Homo sapiens: one gene and its partners. The protein of the gene in region 3 purifies or fractionates together with the protein of the main gene of each other region. This does not show direct contact. Each region holds a gene or a part of one and is shown on either strand. Other genes may lie near its edges. The genes, in order: VAPB, VAPA and OSBPL11.

The links.
Region 1: the proteins of OSBPL11 (region 3) and VAPB purify together in Homo sapiens (affinity purification with mass spectrometry; 6 studies listed by BioGRID and IntAct, with this or other methods). This does not show direct contact.
Region 2: the proteins of OSBPL11 (region 3) and VAPA purify together in Homo sapiens (co-immunoprecipitation; 5 studies listed by BioGRID and IntAct, with this or other methods). This does not show direct contact.

The regions. Positions count from the first base shown.
Region 1 is NC_000020.11:58,434,210-58,441,321, reverse strand, and holds part of VAPB (vesicle-associated membrane protein-associated protein B/C), read right to left. Parts: intron 6,721-7,112; coding exon 6,617-6,720; intron 2,378-6,616; coding exon 2,297-2,377; intron 2,177-2,296; exon of another isoform or gene 2,014-2,176; intron 416-2,013; coding exon 239-415; exon of another isoform or gene 238-238; intron 1-237. UniProt on the Homo sapiens protein: Endoplasmic reticulum (ER)-anchored protein that mediates the formation of contact sites between the ER and endosomes via interaction with FFAT motif-containing proteins such as STARD3 or WDR44.
Region 2 is NC_000018.10:9,944,942-9,952,053, reverse strand, and holds part of VAPA (vesicle-associated membrane protein-associated protein A), read right to left. Parts: coding exon of another isoform or gene 6,996-7,112; intron 1,660-6,995; coding exon 1,486-1,659; intron 1-1,485. UniProt on the Homo sapiens protein: Endoplasmic reticulum (ER)-anchored protein that mediates the formation of contact sites between the ER and endosomes via interaction with FFAT motif-containing proteins such as STARD3 or WDR44.
Region 3 is NC_000003.12:125,585,401-125,592,512, forward strand, and holds part of OSBPL11 (oxysterol-binding protein-related protein 11), read right to left. Parts: intron 1-7,112. UniProt on the Homo sapiens protein: Plays a role in regulating ADIPOQ and FABP4 levels in differentiating adipocytes and is also involved in regulation of adipocyte triglyceride storage. Weakly binds 25-hydroxycholesterol. Interacts with OSBPL9 to function as lipid transfer proteins.

The DNA of each region.
Region 1 (7,112 bases), on a different chromosome or scaffold from region 3:
AGCTTCAACAGTTGAGAAATTTCTGATCAAGGGACAGTGGTTCTTAATTTAGGCAGATCCAAGGACCCTTTTGAGACTCTCATGAAAGCCATGGAAATTTCTCCCTGGGGAGAAAAAAATAGCCAAATACCAAAAGCAAAAAGAAATCTATATATTCACTGGCTCATCAACTTCCCCACCCAAGAAGCTAGTGAAAACGCCCTTGTTTTCTGTAGATTACCAGAAAATAAACTATTACCTTGAACTGCTTGTTCTCCTCCCGTAGCCTCTGAACTTCACCTTGCAGCCTCTTACATTCTTCCATAACCTTCTTAACTTCGGTGTCATCCAAAGAAGAACTCAGAGACTTAGACACTATTGGTGTTTCTGTCTTTGATGCAGTTGTGGATATAATTTTATTTATTTCTACATCATGCTGTTCAAAAACAAATGAAAGCCTAAGTGTCACCGACCATGTAATAATGGACTTTTTTATGCAAAGTAAAGTAGTTCTCAGCAAACACCAAACGTGGTAGCATTTCATCCACACTGTAAAATGTCACATTTATTTTAAAAATGGATTACTTTATCTGATATCTTAATAATCTAAAGCAACAGGGCCCTAGAAATTATGGATAAGGGCAAATAATGAAGTTCGGCTGAGACTAATACTTCAAAGAAAGAGAAAAAGGGCTGTGTATATTGCACTATCAAATTCCTGCCACGGAAAAATCAGCATACTGTAATTGTGCAAGCTCAGGAATTATTAGCCACAAATTACTGTCACCACAAAGATGTGAACATCCCTAGGATTGCCTTAGTGGGGTTAGGAGGCTTGGGAGAGCATTAGACAGAGGGCGAATTACTTTACCAACTTAGCATTTGGAAGCTGGGATGAAGGTGAAACAAACTCAGTGTCTGCAATGTTTCAATCTTGGGAAGTTACATACTCCCCTTATTTCCCCTGCCAAGATTCAGCTATGATCCCCTCTTGAGATTTACAGGGGATGAGAGCCAGTCAGTGGAGGGAGGGCATGGAAGCACGCAGCTTGTCAGGGAAAGAGTAACTGACGATCATTGGCCTGGAATCTAGCTCTACCCATCATTTTCCAGATGAGAAGAGTAGGCCCTGTGAAGCAAGGCCCCAGGCTACCAAGTCAACCTATCACAGAGCTGAGGCCAGAATACTGCTTTCACAGCTTCCAAACTGACCTTCCTGTGACAGGATGTACACTGGGAAGAGGGAAAAAATGACCACTATCCACTTAAAGAAACAGGGTAATGATAGTGGTAAATGATTCAGCAGAAATAAAATCTCAGGTAGTTTTGACACAAATCAACAGCACTCGCGCAGACCAACATAGATACTGTTAACACAACATTTCAGGGTACTTCTGTTTCCCAACTCCAGCTATTAATGGCTAGGATAGTTTCACATGCTGCATGCTTTCACAGTTTTGGTGTTTTTATAAAAATTAAAATGTTTTCGACTAGGTTGAAGGGAAGTCCAAATTAGCATTTCAGATACAGTCTCCTTTCTTCAACTGGTCACAAGTGAGGATCATGAAAGGTAAAGCGCTCACAGTGGACAGCCTAGAGGATGGGGCTCCTTCCTTCTCCCCACAGGCAACACCGGAATGGGATCACTCTCAATGGGGGTTGATATTGCCCTCCAGGACACATGTGGCAATATCTGGAGACATTTTTAGTTGTCACAACTGGGAAGTACTACCAGTATCAAGAGGGCAGAAGCCAGGGATGCTGCTATTAATAAAACACCCTACAGTACACAGGGCAACCTCCACCACCACCAAGGATTTGCCCCAAATATCAACAGTGTTGAGGCTGAGAAATCCTCATCTAAAAGCAGCCTTTGATTGAAGAGGTAGATAGGGTAAAAGGGGTAGGGAGGCTGACAGGGCACTTTGTAAAACAAGAGAACTTGAAAGCTTCCCACACGTCCATCAACCACCATGATAAAGGGCAAATTGTTCCCTCTTTCACTCTCACCCACTGTTTAACAGCAACCTATACCTTTGCCAGGCCACAGAAGCTCTTCAGGATTTATGACATCTCAATGGCCATCGGGCTGCACTTTTCAAGGGGAAACACTGTCAATCAGTTGTCTTTCCGTGAGTTTTTCAAAGGCTGATTTCATAAAGGCCCACTTATTTGCTGACTTCAGCTTATTTTTTTTCTTCAGACATCAGATAAAGGAAAATAATTTGCCAACTTAAATCTTGGTTTTGCAGGAAATGGTATGCAAATAAGTATCAGCTTACAACATTCAATTATTGTTAACTATAAATATACTTACTGGTTTATCATTCTCTGCTGGCAATTCAAACACACATCTAAGTTTTGAATCCATAAGGTCTTCCGGTTTTGCCTCCTTCCACTAAAACAATTTAAATTTAATAATCAAGATATTATAAACCTGCTGGAAGAATAACTTTCTTCCTATAACTGACAATTTCAGAAAAATACTCTTAATGAGAAAGCCCTGATGTATATCAAATAAAGAACTGAAGTCTGCTGAGATTTCAATATTTGTAACATGACAAGATTAAATACACTCACTTTCTCAAAATATTACACTTCATAAACCCTGAAGTCTTGCTGCCTGACTCCTCAAAGTCAACCAATGCTCCCCATGTTGCTACTCTGTGGGACAGGCCCACCACTGAACAAAAAGGAATCCTCTAAACAATGTCTGGATGACCAGGTAACCTTGGCTCTCCTTATGAAAATAAAACTTGTTTTCAGCTGGGCATGGTGGCTTATGCCTGTAATCCCAGCACTTTGGGAGGCTGAGGTGGAGGGACTGGTTGAGCCCAGCAGTTTGAGACCAGTCTGCACAACGTAAGGAGACGTCATCTCTACAAAAAAATTAAAAAATTAGCTAAGCATGGAGGCACATGCCTGTGGTCCCAGCTACTCAGGAGGCTGAGGAGGGAGGATCACTTGGGCCCAGGAGGTGGAGGCTGCAGTGAGCCATGATCATGCCACTGTACTCCAGGCTGGGGGACACTGAGAGACTCTGTCTCAAAAATAATAAATTAAATTAAAATGAGAAAATGAAACTTATTTTAAAGGCATATCTAGAAAGTATAAGCGCATACTATCTGGGACTAGTTTCAGAACCACTCTGCCAACTACCAACGGAACACATTCATTACCAAATCCCTCCTCTGTCACTGTGGCAGTGTGTGGGCTGTGTCTACCCCAAGACCCATCTCCATCCCTCCAGGCTGTAGTGAGAGCACCTTCCTAGCTAAATCCCATGTCCTAAGAGGATACGCTCCTGATTACTTCTCCTTTTGGCAGCAGAAGATGGGAATTCCAGGGTATTCTAGGATTACAGACCAGGATAGCAGCAAGGTTATGATATAGAAAAAGAAGGCACCCCCACCCTCCATGCCCTCAACCCTTCCCAAAACCATGCAAGAGGCAGCTACTGTAACACAGGTACCAAGAACCAAAAGTGGGAAGCAATCTATACATCTGACCCTAGGGGACTGCCACAAAAATTATGGCAGATCCACTAAACGGAACAGCATGCTGCCACTCAAATGATGCTGAAGAGCACTCAGTTAGATGGAGAAAATGTCCAGAATGTTAAGTGAAAAAATCGCAAAGAATACTGAAGTCTGCTCCTCTGCACACACACACCTGTACACGTGTGCCTACCACATAAGTCAAAAAAAATATCAAGCAAGGATCATCACTGAATGCTAAAAGCACCAGGTGAAAGACTGCTGGCGAGCAGGATATTCACATGGTCTCAAAGTATCAGATGACTCAGAGTATCACAGATTACCTATTAACCACAGGGGCAAATGTGCTTTGTGCTATGACAGTGGAGAGAGCTGGCAGTCACCATCTTAACCAAGTGATCAAACAGCATCACCAACAGCGGAACAACCTGGTATGAAATACCAACTATGGAATATTCTTGCCAAAACACATTTAACTTGAATTTAATCATGAGGAAATAATCAAATAAATCCAGAATACAGGACATTCTGTAAGTCAACTGGCCTGGACTCTTAAAAAAAAAAAGAAGTTCAAAGTTTGGGCAGGGTGCAGTGGCTCACACCTGTAATCCCAGCACTTCGAGAGGCAGAGGCAGGAGGATCACTTGAGCCCAGAAGTTCAAGACCAGCCTGGGCAACATAGTGAGACCCCAACTCTATAAAAAAATAAAAAAATAGCCGGCATGGTGGCATGCCTGTAGTTTTAGTTACTCGAACAGCTGAGGTGGAGGTCAAGCCATGACTGCACCACTGCACTTCAGCCTTGGTGACAAAGCAAGACTTTGTCTCAAAAAAAAAAAAAAAAAAAAAAAAAGTTCAAAGTTTGAAAAACAAAAAGGTTTGGGTGTCCTCTACTAAAGGTCACTTTTGGAACAACTAGGAAATAATGAATATGAATTTATCACATAATAATACTGAATTGAAGTTACTTTTTTCAGCTATGATTAATAGTATCATGACTATATAAGAGACTGTCCTTGCTCTGAAGCATTTAGGGGTGAAGTGTCATAAATTTGCATCTCAAGCAAATAAGAAAGTTTGTGACAGAAAGGAAGCAAATGTCACAACATGTTAACAAATGTAAATCTAGGTAAAAGTTATATGAGTGGTCACCATGCTATTTTTTCAACTTTCTGTATATCACAATAAAAAGAAAAACATTTTAAAATAAAGAAAAAGCAGGCTGGGGCAGTGGCTCATGCCTGTAATCCTACCACTTTGGGAGGCTGAGGTGGGCAGATCGCTTGAGTCCAGGAGTTTGAGACCAGCTTGGGCAACATGGAGAAAACCTGTCTCTACAAAAAAATTAGCCAGGCATGGTGGTGCGCTCCTGTGGTCCCAGCTACTTGGGAGGCTGAGGTGGGAGGATCACTTGAGCCCAGGAGGTGGAGGCTGCAGCGAGCTGAGATCACTCCACTGCATTCCAGCCTAGGTGACACAGTAAAATCATGTCTCCAAAAAAAAAAAAAAAAAAAAAAAGGAAGAAAAACACAAAGCTCTCATTTCTCATTAATGATGGTTAGGCCTAGTAGAAAAGAACTATGGGTCACTTTAAATTTTTTTCATTTGTGTATTTCCAAAATTTCCCACAATGTACATTTTATATAAAAAAAATTTAAACTTATATCATCATACAAGGAACTAAAATGACCCTTTACTAGATATGCAGTGACTGGCCTATTACACACTCTGATAAGCAAGTGTCAGACACTGGACCCACCAGGCACTTACACAGGCACACTTCATACTCACCACTGTGTGAGCTGCATTTTTATCCCTATTTTACAAATGATCAAAACCTCAACAGAGTTAATAAAACCTGCTCCCAGCCACAACGTCAGTAAAAGGAAGAACTCAGCTCGAAAACACCCAAGCCCATGCTCTTTTCACTATGCCATGCAGCAGAAGCCAAACAGAACACACCCTTGGATCTTCCATTATTTTCTATCTGCCATGTTTCTTTGATCACACAAATTAACATGAAGTAACACATCATGTTGCAGAAAATCAGAGAAAGTTTTCATAAGAATTGTTCTTATGAAAAGAAGACAGCCTATTATCACTGATCTCTCTAAAAGTCAAAAATATCTGGCCTCCTCCTTCATTTTCTGCCTACAAGTGAAACATCAGCGGAGATGCTTCTCCAGAACTTAAACAAAAGGCTATGTGGTGACATAGGGCATGGGGTGGTCTTGGCCTGAGTTGCCCTTGGTATGAAACTCAGACAGAGGAGAACTGCAGTATGGTGTGATGAACAGCGGACTCAGGTGGGCAGACCTGCCGTGGATGACTCGGGGCTCCCCTTTGGGCGGGCCAAAACTGGAGAGCAATGCAAGTGGTATGAGGCAACCCTGTCCTGCTTTCCTGAACTGTAAGGACAAGCGCATCTGTCCCTGCTGGGGCTGTGGGTTGTATTGTAGATTTCAATTCAACTCCCAGCCCCAGAATGCCAATGGACTTATTCAAATGTATAAAAAGCTCGTTTTGGAGGGAATGTCCATTATACTCTTTTTTTTTTTTCCAAAACCATCACTAACATCACTTATTTCTTTTATAAAAATGAAGTCATCTTAATTTTATCAAAATTAGAGAAAAGTTAAACATAGATTTAAGCAGGGGGGAAAATAAATAAGCATATTTACTAGAACAAAGCCACAAACATGTATGTCTAAATGGGTGAGGACATTCAGCACTGACACTCTCACATGGCTCTTGAGTTTGTGGGGGATGAGAAGACAAGTAAGAAAAAGGCGGGACAATGAAAAGTATCCTTTTCTGTCGGGGCAGAAAGGAGAGGCGAAAGAAGGCAATCCCTAACCATGCAAGACACCATCCACCAGTGCAAGGAGCTGCTGAAGCACACTGAGCTCAGGAAAGTCAGAAAAGAACAGCCTTCTAGAAAGTCACAAAAAATGTTAAAATTATTCCTCAAAGTTTTAGAAAAACCATAAAGGTAGATAAAGTACAAACCTCCTTGAAAAAAAACTATTCCCTTTTAAATAATTTTGACATATTTTGAAATGCATGCACCCACAATTCCATATCTAATTGGTTTTTTAAATTATTGTTACTGAAAAAAATAAGAAGCATTCAGTACTTACTACTGCTTCCATATCTGAAGTGTCAGTTGGAGCAAACATAGACTGAACCATAAACTTGTGTTTACTTTTCTCATTGGGATCATAATCGAAAGGCTGTAACATCACTGAGAAAGAAAATATTTCATTAGGAGGGTCAGAGCTTGGTTGTCAGTGCCATTTATTATGCTAATACTTGTACTTTGGTTGTAAAGCAATTTACCGGCATTCTCTTATGTCTTAGGATGGACGCCCCTGGTGAAGTAAGCAAGGATGACCAACATCTCCATTTTGCAGGTCACCAACCTAAGAGCCACAAAATCACGCATGACAGAGCTGGGAATAAGGCCGAGGACCCAGTCTTCTGATTCCTAGTCCATGGATCTTTCACTACTGCAAGCCTACCGTAAATGTCTGCTACAGGCCTTACAGAATTGGGAAACTGGGTAGCAACACCATCTGCCTGTTTTGCTCAAGAAAACATATCCAAATGATCTCTTCAGGAATTAAATAGAATAAT
Region 2 (7,112 bases), on a different chromosome or scaffold from region 3:
CTAAGGAGCACATCTTTATCAAAGAACAGAACTATGGAAGTCATGGCAGATGAAGTAAAAGTAACCAACAACATCCTTTAAAAGATCCATGGCGTGTAGGTGTGAAATAAAGATATTCTTTCCGCTACCCAGACAAGTGCTTGGAAGCAGACGGGTACCCCTCGAGGGGGTACTATGAAACATCAAGCATGAAGAGACACAAAAATTCACTTTAAAAAGCATTTCAGCAAAGGAGTTCACAGATCGACTTAAAACACAGTGCCTTTAATTTAGAGTGTAGTTCCTACATACACCTAACAAAAGGAATAATCAAATAACTCCCATCATTTAGCTTATTTTAGTTACATACATTTTTGTATCATCTACTTTGCTGCAAAGAGCTTCAAACAAAGCCTAGAGAGCAACGTATAGGTATTTAGGTCTTGAAACAAGTAATTACTTGTCAAAGACAAATTATTCATAAATTTCAGACATATTCAAATCAGTCCTCCTTCGCCATCCATTTAATTCAATCAAATACATGAATGACTACCACATGCATGTATGGTGAATGCAGAGATAAATGAAGCACTGCCCTTGCCACCAAGGCAATTACTGCCCACTAGAGGGAGAAAGGCCTCTAACAAGTAAGAGCAGTAGAAGGCGATCAGCATAGTGGAGGCACAAAGCAGACATGACAAATCGATTTTTTTCTTCTTTTGGAGAGGGTCCCAGCAAAGGCTATATGCTGTAGTAGCAAAACGTCAATGTGTGTATGTGCTGTGTCGGGAGGGGCAGGGTTCTGGGCCTTTCCAGTCACAGTGAAGAGCTTACACTAAAGCAAAGAGGGGTGATAAACAGATGCTTCTCCAGCATACTCCAGCCCAATGCTGCCCCACGCAAATACAATGTGAGCTTCAAATGTGAGCCCCGTATGTAAAGTTAAATTTTCCAACAGTACATTTAAAAAGTAAAAAGAAATGGGTAAAATTCATTTTAATAATATATTTGATTCAACCCAATATACCCAAACTACTATTTCAGTATGTAACCATTAAAAAAAAAAGATTTTACCTTTTTCTGTACTAACTCTTCAACATCAGTATTTTACACTCAACAGCACAGCTCAATTTGAACAAATCCCATTTCAGTGCTCAACAGCCCTAGGTGACTAATGGCTATGATGTGGGACAACACAATCCTAGGCAGTTCAGTATGACTAGGGCACAAAATGGGAAGGACATGAGAAACAAGAGCAGAAGCTGGCAATACTGCAGGCCAGATCACAAATAATTAGAATGTGTGCTAAAGTAAGGAACTTGCAGCAATGAGAAACCACGGGAAGACTGTTAAAAGAGGAGTAGGGTGGGGAGCAAAGGCACTGGGGCAAAGAAGAAAGAACTGACCAAGCAAAAATTTAAAAGCTAATTGCTAAAATGGCCTAATAACACTCACATGTCCTATACCTTCATTTCAATCAATTTATTTTCAACCAACAGAACTTACTCTCAGGTGCCGATTTTCTTCTGATAGCTTCATCATTTCTCCCTGAAGTCTTTTACACTCTTCCATTAGTTTCCTTGTTTCGGTATCATTAAGTGAAACACTGTGTGGTTTTGGCATAGGTCCATCTTGCTTAGATGCATTCAGTGGAACAGCTTTGCTAGGTTCCATATCATTCTGCATTACAAAGATATTGGGAATTTTTTAACTAACCAAATCTCCTTACAGGTTTTAAACAAATAACAATATAAATTCTACATCTTTGTTCATGAAAAACTCTTTAAAAGGCCTAAATCAGTACATGTCAGCAGTCAGATTAGTCTAAATAACCAGCCCACTCCCTCTATTCCCATAATCCCTGGCACGTACCTCTACCATAGCACTTTATTATGTATCTTAATAATTATTGTTCAAGTTCTTTCCTGTAATACTTCAAAGGCTGAGAGAGCAAGAGCCATCTCTCTTTGTATTTACCCCTAAAACCAGCACTTTGGTCAAGAGTAGTTATTCAATGAAAGTATGCTGAATGACGTCAACAAAATCCATTGAAGGTCATTTTCCGTGCTCTGGTTGTGCAATTCAAATAAGGTTCTGGGGGGTAGGGGGATATTATCGTAATCATTCCAATAAAATCGGAAACTACCTAAGAAAAAACATGCCCAAGAAAAGCTAACTTCTATTAATTTGTCATCTTTAGTAATGCTGTTTGCTTTAATTCACGTGATTCAACATCACAGGAGCACTTAGCATGCTTTGAAGACTATGAGCCCCAAAATCTTAATCCTCACCAACATTGAACCATTTGAAGCTAGTGAAGGCCTGGAGATAAATATCTATGACAGCACCTATGTATTCTTCAGCCCGTTGTCTAAAGTACCCCAACATCCTTCACTCCAACAGCATTTATGTCACCACACATCGTAGCAGTATTAGTGTAACAAGCTTTTTTCATTTTAATTAAATTCACTTACTTTAAAATAATTTTAGGTAAAATCTGCTTTATTCAGCTATAAACTGCTAAAAAAGACATTTACTAAATCAACTTTATGGCATTCCACAATACTCATTTTATAAGATTTATCAGAGGCTGCACACCTACCACACCATCCCAGCTGCCAATTTTATATTAAGTATAAACAGATTGTTCAAAGGGCAAAACTTGTTATTCTTATGAAGGGGATGTGATTTGATTAGTATGCCTAAATCCATGTAAAATCTATTTAAAAATGAAAATTTATAATGAGGTTCTAATGAACAACAGCATGTATGTGACCTGTCGGCAGACTCTTCCATTCTTCTTCAAGCTTCCCAGTTAAGCAACGTTTTAAAGCAGCCTACTTCAATTCTCTGAGTTTTTCTCTTGCTAGCTTTTTTGTTCTTCACCCCCATTTCTCCCACCCCAACCAATCTAATAATAGCCGCCCCTATTATTAAAAAACTGTTTCAGATATATTTTACCCTGCCAATACTTTTTCCTGTTCTTTTCCTTAATAGTAGTTAGAACTCATTTGTGATTTTCAGTGTGGTCAAATTCTATCCTAGCACAAATCCAACTTCTGATAATGAGGTTGGCACACTGACTTACTCTATAAAGGAGGTGGCAATGGCCACCAATATGGCAATAGAAGAACTTTCAGGTTTTGGTTAAAAATTGGGAAAAAGTATCATACTCATACCAGAAAACTGATAAAAACTTAAAGAGGATGAAGCAGGGCACCATGTCTGATGTCTGTAATCCCAACACTTTGGGAGGCCGAGATGGGTGGCCTGCTTGAGCCCAGGAGTTCAAGAACAGCCTGAGCAACAGAGGGAGACCCTGTCTCTACAAAAAACAATTTTAGAAATTAGCCAGGCATGGTGGTGTGCACCTGTAATCTCAGCTACTCATGAGACTGAGGTGGCTTGAGCCCAGGAAGCGGAGGTTGCAATGAGACGAGATCGTGCCACTGCACTCCAGCCCAGGTGAGAGTGAGACCCTATCTCCAAAAGGGGGAAAAAAAGATATACATGGGGTCAACACCAAAGAGAAAAAAAACTAAAAGAATCATCAAGCTCGACAACTGATTATTTTTAAATTCTTTACATTGCATAAAATTTTAAATTACGGAGGGAAGGGAAAAAGTCATTTCTCACAATCTTGTCAAATCAACAAAACTATTATTTATATTACTATTATTAAATGACATGTCATTAAATATTCTATTCTATGCCTTGCCAAAATTAAACATTTCACTTTTGTTAAGCATTTGATGGGCAGCTTTCCATTCTTTCAAATTTTAAATAACATGTCCATAGGAAGACATTCCATAAAAAGATAACTAGATTGGAATTAGATTTAGATTTTTCTAATTCTAATAGAATTAGACTTGGAATTAGATTAGAATTTATCTAAGCAAATAGAATTAGATTTTTTTGTTGTTGAATTTCTCTTAAAAATGTTATACTGCTTTTGTAACAAAAAGGAGAAGAAATGATAACCAATATGTGGAGCATAAACAGAATAGAATGCAAAGAATACAGTGAAGCCGAAACACATTTCAAAAGTGTGCCCAATAAGTTATATCACATACTACCTAGGCCCCTTACAAACCAGTGAACATACATAACAGGTGCAAGAAAATCTAATTTATTTACATATACATATGCTACATATGTATATGTTATGCTATATATGTATATGTAATGGGGGGAAGTGTGATGGGAGGGTGGGCTTTGAGTCATGCATGGAGTGACAATCTGAAGAGCCTGATGGAAAAAATTAAGCAGGTGTAACTTTAAGTATATGCTTCCATCCAGGACCTCTATTAGTGAGGTTTGGCTCCAATAAAACAGCTTGTTTCTTGAGAGTTGCTTCAAACTGGTCCAGAAAGAAAAGACTGGTTGTTCTGAGAACCATGAAACAAGCACACCAGAGAGATTCAACATGCTGTGACTCTTAGTAAATTGATGAATGGTAACCTTACATTTAACACTGCAATTCAGAATAAGCTGGAAGGTCAAGGTGTGTATCAACTAAAACAATAAACCAATCTTGTCCAGTTTCCACTATATTATTTAGCCTATCTGCAGTAATCCTCCATCTGAGTTGTCCAGTCATGTTCTGTATAATGATGTTTTGGTCAACAATGATTCATACATATGATAGTGTTCCCATACAATAATAATGGCACTGAAAAATTCCTATTACCTAGTGAGGTCTTATCACAATACATTATTCACGTTTGTGGTGATGCTGGTGTAAATATACATACTGTACTCCAGTCATATAAAAGTATTGCACATATGATTTATGTACAATACAGAATACTTGGTAATAAATGACTATGTTACAGGTTTATGTATTTACTGTTATGCTTTTTATCATTTATTTTAGAGTGTACTCCTTCTACTTACGAAAACAAAAAGGACACTCTAAGTCAGACTCCAGCAGGTCCTTCAGGAGGTATTCCAGAAGACACTGTTAACATAGGAGATGTCAGCTCCATGAGTGTTACTGTCCCTGAAGACATTACAGTGAGACAGGATGTGGAGGTGGAAGGCAGTGATACTGATGATCCCGCCCCTGTGCAGGCCTAGACTAATGTGTGTGCTATGTCTTAGTCTTAAGAAAAGAAGTTTTTTTAAAAATCTTATTTAAAAAATAGAAAAAGGCAGCGAATAAGGACATTAAAAAGATATTTTTATTTATCTATACACTGTGCTTGTGCTTTATGTCAAAAATTTTAATTTTACAGTTTATGAAGTTACGGACAGCTAAGATTAAAGAAAAAAATTTTAATAAATGTAGCCTAAGTGTACAGTGTTTATAAAGTCTACAGTGTACAGTAATGTCCTAGGCCTTCCCATTCACTCACCACTCATTCACTGACCCACCCAAAACAACTTCCAGTTCTGCAAGATCCATTCACAGTAAGTGCCCTATGCAAGTATACAATTTTATCTCTTATGCCATATTTTTGCTGCGCCTTTTCTGTGTATAGTCACGGGTGTCCAATCTTCTGGCTTCCCTGGGCCTCACTGGAAGAAAAATTGTCTTGGGCCACACATAAAATACACTAACACTAACACTAACTAATGAGCTATTAAAAAAAAAAAATCACACAAAAAAAAACTCATAGTGTTTTAAGAAAGTTTACGAATTTGAGGTGGGCCGGATTCAAAGCCATCATGGGCCACGTGTGGGCCGCAGGCTGCAGGTTGAATAAGCTCAGTGTAGATTGTTTCGATACACAAATACTTACCATTGTAGTACAGCCACAGGCTATACAAGTCTGTAGCCTAGGAGCAAAAGGCAATACCATATATAGGTTTTTGTAAGTACACTCTATGATGTTTATACAACACATCACCTAACAACACATTTCTCAATATATATCCCCATCCTTAACAGATGCATGACTGTACTTCTGTATTCTTTTTTAACCATCAGAATTTCAGTTCTAATATCCCAAGTATTTTTACTGGGGGTTAATTAGAAAAAGAGGGAACTAGGAATTGGAAATACAAGAAAAAGTTTGCAAAGAAGCCTTGGGAAGAACAAAGGAGATAAAAGACATAAACGTGGGCCTACATTCTTACAACTAACAGGAGTGATGGATAAAAACGCACATAAAGGGAGTTAAAAGGCTAAAGTCAAGAGTACTGTCATAAACCGAGAGAGGCAAAATTAAGGTCTTAACCTATGAATTAAGAGACAGGATTTAAGTAACAAAGTTACCTGAAGTTTTTTTTTCCCACTCTAAACAGCCAATTTACTGTTTCTTTAGGATCATGACTCCCAGAAGTAAATAATTCCCAATCACAAAAACAAAAAATTATTAAACATTTAGATAATTTTTTAAAGCCTTAGTATGCATATCATCTGCAAAACCAAATCAAAGTATAAACAATCTGTTAAAACTGTGGGGTTGCCACATGTGGTGGCTCACGCCTATAATCCCAGGACTTTGGGAGGCCAAGGCAGGTGGATCACCTGAGGTCGGAGTTTAATGAGACCAGCCTGGCCAACATGGTGAAACCCCATCTCTACCAAAAAAATACAAAAATTAGCCAGGCATGGTGGCACGTGCCTGTACTCCCAGCTACTCAGGAGGCTGAGGTGGGAGAATCCCTTGAACCGGGGAGGCAGAGGTTGCAGTGAGCTGAAATTGTGCCATGCACTCCAGCCTGGGTGACAGAGCGAGACTCCATCTCAAAAAAAAAAAAAAAAAAAAAAAAAAAAGAGTATATTCCCCAAATCTCAAAGAAAAAAATTACAGCAACTTCATAATGTTCACACTTATACTGTCCTGCTCACTATATAGATTTTAGTTAAGTTCAGAAGTTTTTTAGAACAGAATAGTTTGTATGCATGATTTTTAAGTGCTTTGTAGTTTTATTGTAATTTTAGGCATAGTTCAATTCTATCTACTTCATACAACATACTCACAATACCACTTATCTGCTAGGTATCTACATTAACTTAACCATTGACACTAGTAGACTCCTAAGTCTGTTAACTCCCTATAACAAACCTTCTGTTTCTCCTGTTTCAACACACTGAGTCCCCTGGGGTCATCCTTCGTGTGATAACTGGCAGGTGTTGCAACTGTGTTGTTGATGCTGCTCATTGAAGTGACAGTCGGAGCATT
Region 3 (7,112 bases):
GCTGGGATTATAGGTATGAGCCACTGTACCTGGCTCTAAGTGTATCTTCATATTTCACATCATAGTAATGTTCTGTTTAATTTTCTAATGTTATTAATATTTTGCTGATTCATATATCTAAAGAGTTAGCTTTCTGAAAAAAAAAAAAACAAAACTATAAGGATATTGACATGGTTTATTTGGTAGTAGCATAAAGTTAGTTTCAAAAGAGGCAGAAATTCAAGTAAGTAAACTGCTGGCTTATTTTTATTATATAAAACAGCTGTCTCCAGGTTACAAAGAACCAACTTGAAAACATCCTATTCTTTGGAACAGCTGGTTGCAATGTCCCTCCCTCATTCTTCCCCTTTTCCATGTATCCCAAGAAATAGCCACTATCGAAGGCAACCAGCTGGTGTGGAACAACTGTGCCATCTGGTGGTCAGCATAAAAAGTGCTCTGTGACTGAACATCTGATTCACACTTTCTTTTCTTCTACTGTCTTATAATTGAGTTACTACACAGTATCTCTAACTCTCATGCTTTATTCCTATCTAAAATGTGTGAATTTTCAGGGCCTGGTGTAGTGCCTCATGCCTGTAATCTCAACACTTTGGGAGGCCAAGGTGGGACAATTCCTTGAGTCCAGGAGTTTGAGACCAGCCTGGGCAACATAGGGAGACCCACCCCATCTCTAAAAACAGTAAATAAAATAAAATGTGCAAATTTTTATAGAATATTTTTAATGTGTGTCTGTTAATATTAATAAAATCTAGCTACTGAAGTGGGAACATACCACATATCTGATTATATTATACTATTTTGTGTTCTATAAAATAGAAGTGATGGTCCAAAACAGACTAATACACTAAAAAATAAGCTATGATAAAGTTAATTTCTTCTTCAGTCCTCCAAAAACTTCACTGCTCAAGAAACTGGGTATATTTCTAATCTTTTAAACTTGTTAACATTTAATTGGGATTAGTAGTGGAAGCTGATAGTCTATAAAAATAACTGATTAAACTGTGCTAAGTGGCTTTATTATATTGTGTTTAGTTTGATACTCATTTTCTCTTAAATATCTTAAAAATAACTGCTTCAATTCTTTAATCTCCATTACTATAACATACATATTTCTTTTTTTTTTTTTTGAGATGGAGTCTCGCTCTGTCACCCAGGCTGGAGAGCAGTGGTGCAATCTTGGCTCACTACAACCTCCGCCTGCTGTGTTCAAGTGATTCTCCTGCCTCAGCCTCCCGAGTAGCTGGGAGTACAGGTGCGTGTGTGCCACCATGCCTGGCTACTTTTTCTATTTGTAGTAGAGACGGGGTTTCATCATGTTGGTCAGGCTGGTCTCGAACTCCTGACCTCGTGATCCGCCTGCCTCGGCTTCCCAAAGTGCTGGGATTATAGGCGTGAGCCACCGTGCCCGGCAATATACTTATTTCTCAACCTTTCTTTATCAGACTTAAGATAGATAAAAGTTTTTAAAATTAAGCTACCTTTTAAACAGTTTCAAATCCTTTCAACTCAAAACAATTACTCAATACCTACTAAAGCACAGCACTCTGAAAAACCATTGAAAAGCATAAGAAAATCAAAAAGGCAATAACTAATAACTCTCCATCTCAAATCTATAATCTAATCTAAGAGAAATATATCTCCTTGAAGAAAAAGGCAGTAACATGGGTTCCTGCTACTGGAAAAGACACACAATGGGACTACATTTGCAGCTGCCATACAAATAAAAAAGGCATTAAACAAATACAGAGGATTCAGTAGTGAGTGAGAAGGCTGAAATGACTAGATTTGATGACTGATTAGATGTGAAGTGAGACAGAAAGAATGAAAGTGAGAGAGAAAGGACAAGAGCAACACTCAGATTTCCAGCTGGAACAACTGGGTGGATAACTAATGCCTTCACTGAGATAGGGATCGCAGAGAAATTTTGGATTTGTTCCAACTTAAGATGTTAAATTTAATGAACCTGCAGGACTATACAGGGAGATATCCAGTAAGGCAGCATGATTAGGGCTTGGTAGTCATCAGCATATAAGCATATAACTGGTATTTGAAGTTACAGCAGTAAATAAGGTCACTCAGGAAGTATTACGAAATGGCAAGAGATGGGCAGGGTCTAAGAGAGATCTCTAAGGAAAAGTTTTAAGGGCAAGGGGAATACAGAGAAGAAATCAGGAACAACTGAGTAGTGGGAAGAAAACTAGGAGTATGGAAAGACAGAAACCAGAGAAAGTGTTTCAAGATAAGTCTGTGGTCAAGAATATTCAGTGGGCAGGTGCCTTCACTCACACCTGTAATCCCAGCACTTTGGGAGGATCACTTGAGCCAGGAGTTTGAGACCAGCCTGGGCATCACAGTGAGATCCTGTCTCTACAAAAAAAATTAAAAATTAGCCAGGCAGGGTGGCACACACCTGTAATCCCAGCTACTCAGGACACTGAGATGGGAGGATTGCTTGAGCCCAGGAAGTGGAGGCTGCAGGGAGCTGCAATCGTGCCATTGCACTCCAGCCTGGGAAACAGAGCAAGACTCTGTCTCAGGCCAGGCACAGTGGCTCATGCCTATAATCCCAGCACTTTGGGAGGCTGAGGTGGGTGGATCACTTGAGGTCAGGAGTTCAAAACCAGCCTAGCCAACATGGTAAAACCCTATCTCTACTAAAAATACAAAAATTAGCTGGGCGTGGTGGTGCATGCCTGTAGTCCCAGCTACTTGGGAGGCTGAGGCAGGAGAATTGCTTGAAACTGGGAGGCGGAGGTTTCACTGAGCCAAGATCCTGCCACTGTACTCCAGGCTGGGCGTCAGAGTAAGACCCTGTCTCAAAAAAAAAAAAAAAAAAAAAGAGAAGTTCAGTGCTACTGATAAAGTAAGATATGACAAAGACTGAGAAGACTCATTAGACTTAAAACCCAGAGATAACAGTTTAATGGAATGATGAGGGCAGTCAGCTGGAAGTAACATCAGAGGTTGACGATAATGTCAAGAGGTTCTCCAGCTTGTAGACAACTGAGCTATGGGATTTCTCAGGCTCCACAGTCATATGAGCCAATTCCTCATAATCTCTCTCTATATATATCTACCTATTGGTTCTATTTTCCTGGAAAAGCCAAATAGCGATACCTTAAGGTATTTAACTACAGGCAGGAATCCAAGTTGTAGTCAGTAAATATGAGGTACCAGGCAAGTCACATGTCAAAATCCATACTTTCAACTAGGCAAAAAGTATCCTCCCAAAAGGCTTAGCACTTTGGTCCATTCTCTGGATAAGAAATAGCATGAAGCGGGGAGTGGCTTGCTTAGCTGAGGAAAAGGCTAATGACATTAAGAGATATTCCTCGCAACAGCTAGTGTGTAGCCTGGGATATAATGTTTATTTGCTGAATGAATTAAGCAATGGGAAGAAAGAAACAGAATTTTTCTATGAAGCCATGAGGCAATTCTCAGTAACCTGCCCACCTCCTCCCCAAAAAATTCAACTCGCAGACTGTATACTCAAAATCGCAAACAAAATAAAGTCTAACTGTATTTTAATCTATGACAAAAAGTATAAAGTCAAGAGAGGGGTCCTCCCTCCTGCCAAGAGTCTTAAAAATGTTAGCACTCTTTGGCCCTAGAATTTCACTTTTAGGTATCCCATCTATGACAAATGATTAGAAATGTAGACAAAGCCGGGTGCGGTGGCTCACGCCTGTAATCCCAGTACTTTAAGAGGCCTAGGCAGGCAGATCGCCTGAGGTCAGGAGTTCGAAATCAGCCTGGCCAACATGGTGGAACCCCGTCTCTACCAAAAATATAAGAATTAGCCGGGTGGCACCTGCCTGTACCCAGCTACTCGGGAGACTGAGGCACAAGAATCGCTTGAACCCAGGAGGCAGAGGTTGTGGTGAGCCAAGATTGCACCATTGTGCTCTAGCCTGGGCAACAAGAGTGAAACTCCATCTCAAAAAAAAAAAAAAAAAACAAAACAGAAAAGATATGTAGTGCAAAAATGTAAGGAAACTAAGAAATCACAGCACATTATTAATAAACCAACTCTTGCTCCTCAAGACTTGGTATATTTTTAACTAGATTTTGGAATAATATTTTATAGTTTCCAGTTACATGCCTACAATTATCTTTCTCTTGTTTTTACCAGCATCTATAGCAGATGTCAGATACAGAAAACAAAAACTAGAGTGTAGAAATATGTATCAATTTTCCTTTAACCCCTGCAGAGGAAAAAAAAAAAAAAAGCAGACATTTATGACTTTTTCTTCAAATCAACTCAGAAGAAGAGGTAAAACCTCTAAGACCATGAACATTCATTTATATTTAGGCCAATCTCATTTTCCCATCCGCGAACAGGCACTTTTCCTTATAATAGTATTGACAGTGGAAGAAACCACAAAATTATTGTGGTCTGACCACAAAAATTATTTCTATACTACACATTTGCAGACTTTTACACATTTACTGAAAAGTATAGCTGTTTGCTAATGAGGAAAATAGATTTATCTGTTAATATGATTAGCCAGTGAGGAGCTCAAAATTTTAAAAAAAAGCAGGCCATCAAACACCCTGGTTTGTCTTTCAGTTCCTCTTTTGAATAGTTCTCTTCTGCCCATTTTAATAAGCAGGTGGCATATTTGCAGATTTGTGAATTTCTCTACAAGCTGACATGAAGAATACAAAAATAATGAAAACATGCATATTTTATAAAGTGTGAATATTCACTATGAAAAAGGAAGGAAAGACCCAGAACTGGGAAATCTATCTTCTCTGTAAATGGTAAAGAAAGCTCACATCATATGAATATAAATTACTCTGGAAACAAGAAAATACAAGGCTAATCTAATAAATTAAGTTCTTAAGTTTAATTTTTCAAAAGGGCCAGGCACGGTGGCTCACGCCTGTAATCCTAGTACTTCAGGAGGCCGAAGTGGGTGGATCACTTGAGGTCAGGAGTTTGAGACCAGCCTGGCCAACATGGTGAAACCTCATCTCTACTAAAAATACAAAAATCAGCCGGGTGTGGTGGCAAGTGCCTGTGGTCCCAGCTACTTGGGAAGCTGAGGCAGGAGAATCGCTTGGACTTGAACCTGGGAGGCAGAGGTTGCAGTGAGCTAAGATCTGCCACCGCACTCCAGCCTGCACAAGAGGACCAGACTCTGTCTCAAAAAAAAAATTTTTTTTTTCAAAAGGTCATCATGAGATTGTTTTGTAAATGCCACTGATGCCCTTCCTTTTCCTGATTATTTTGATGATCCTCCTAAAATAAGCCTTAGAATTCATTCTTTCGTTGTTTTGGGTGTGCACATTAATTTGGCATTAATAAAAGAGTGCTTCAGACATAGTAGAGACTCAAAAATATTTGCTACATAAGTTAGAACATGAGTAAACCATAAAACCAACCATGTACCAAACTAGTTATTATCAATAATTATTCATTCCTTTTAGAGAGTTTATCTACTTTTAATACCTCTATGTAAATATCTATCTAGAAATAAAAGTTCTCCCACTTACTAGCTATGTAACCTTAGCTACATGCAATATATAACTTCATGTACTATATTGCCTAAGTCTATATTGTCATTTAGACTTAGGTTTTCTTCAACTGCAAAACAGGAATAATAATGCTGTATCTTCCTCCAGAGTTGGGAGGATTAAATGTGATAACAGATGTGAAAACATTCTGGATAATGTAAAGACAATTATCTACATTTCCAATACTCCATATCTCTGAGGACTGGCTAGATAAGACACTTAAACATTCTGGCAACTTTAGCTGGACATACCTAAAACCAGATACATAATTTGACTCCCCAAGTCCGTTTTCCCCTCTAGTCTTTACAATCTTGAGTCTATTATATTAACTGCCTAGGCATTTTCTGGCATAAATCCCAATAATCCCCACCTGCTGGTATTCTCACACCCTTGTGTGGGACTTGTTTCTGAAGAACAGTGAAAAGTGATGTGAATTCACCTCAGTGCTTAGGTTACAAAAGACTGTTAACTTCTCTCCAGGTAGCACTCTCTAGTCCTCTTACCTCCTCATTCTCAAGAAACAAGCTGCCAAGTTGTAAGATGCTCTGTGAAGAAGCCCATGTGGCCAGTGAACAAAGGAGGTCTCTGGCCATCAGTTCATGAGGAACTGAGTTTTTTGTCCAATGGGCCAAAAGGAACTGAATTGCACCAAGAGTCTCATGAATCAGCTAGGAAATGAATCCTTCCCAGTTCAGTCTTAAGAAAGACTCAGAGCCAGAAGACCCAGCTAAGCTGCACTGAGATTCCTGACCCAAAGACACTATGAAATAATAAATGCTGCTAATATATTAAATTTGGGGGTAATTTGTAATGCAGTAGTAGATACACTATCTCACACTGTATTTCAAAATAAATTCCAGATAGATTAAAAAGTTAAATATGAGCCTGGGCAACATCGCAAGATCCTGCCTCTAGAAAAAAATTTTAAAATTAGCTGGGCATGGTGGTGTACACCTGTAGTCCCAGCTATTCCAGAAGCTGAATAGGAGGATCACTTGAGCCTAGCAGTTCAAGGCTGCAGTGAGCTATGATGGAGACACCACACTCAACCCTGGGAGACAGAGAGAGACCTTGTCTCAAAAAAAAAAGTTAAATTGTAAAACTACCAAATTATTTTAAAACTTCATGAAAACAACTATTTATTTAACTATTTTTGAGACAGGGTCTTGCTCTGTCACCCAGGCTTGAGTGCAGTGGCACAATCACAGCTCACTGGAGCCTAGAACTCAAGCAATCCTTCCACCTCAGCCTCCTGAGTAGGCATGCCACCATGCCTGGCTAATTTTTTAATTTTTTGTAGAGATGGGGTCTCTCTATGTTGCCCAGGCTAGTCTCAAACTGCTGGGCTCAAGTAATGCTCCCACCTCAGCGCCCCAAAGTGCTAAGGATCAACACTTTGGGTGAGCTACAGTGCCAGCCAAAACCAAGTACTTATAAAAGTTACTTTTTATAATTAGAAATGGATGGAAAAGAGGAATAAGAGGTCTGACTTAAAAGTTTTCTGTGTGTCAAAAAAAATGAAATTAAATCTGAGGACTAGTGAAATATTTGCAGAAAGTATAGCAAAGAATTTATACAAAATTAAAATA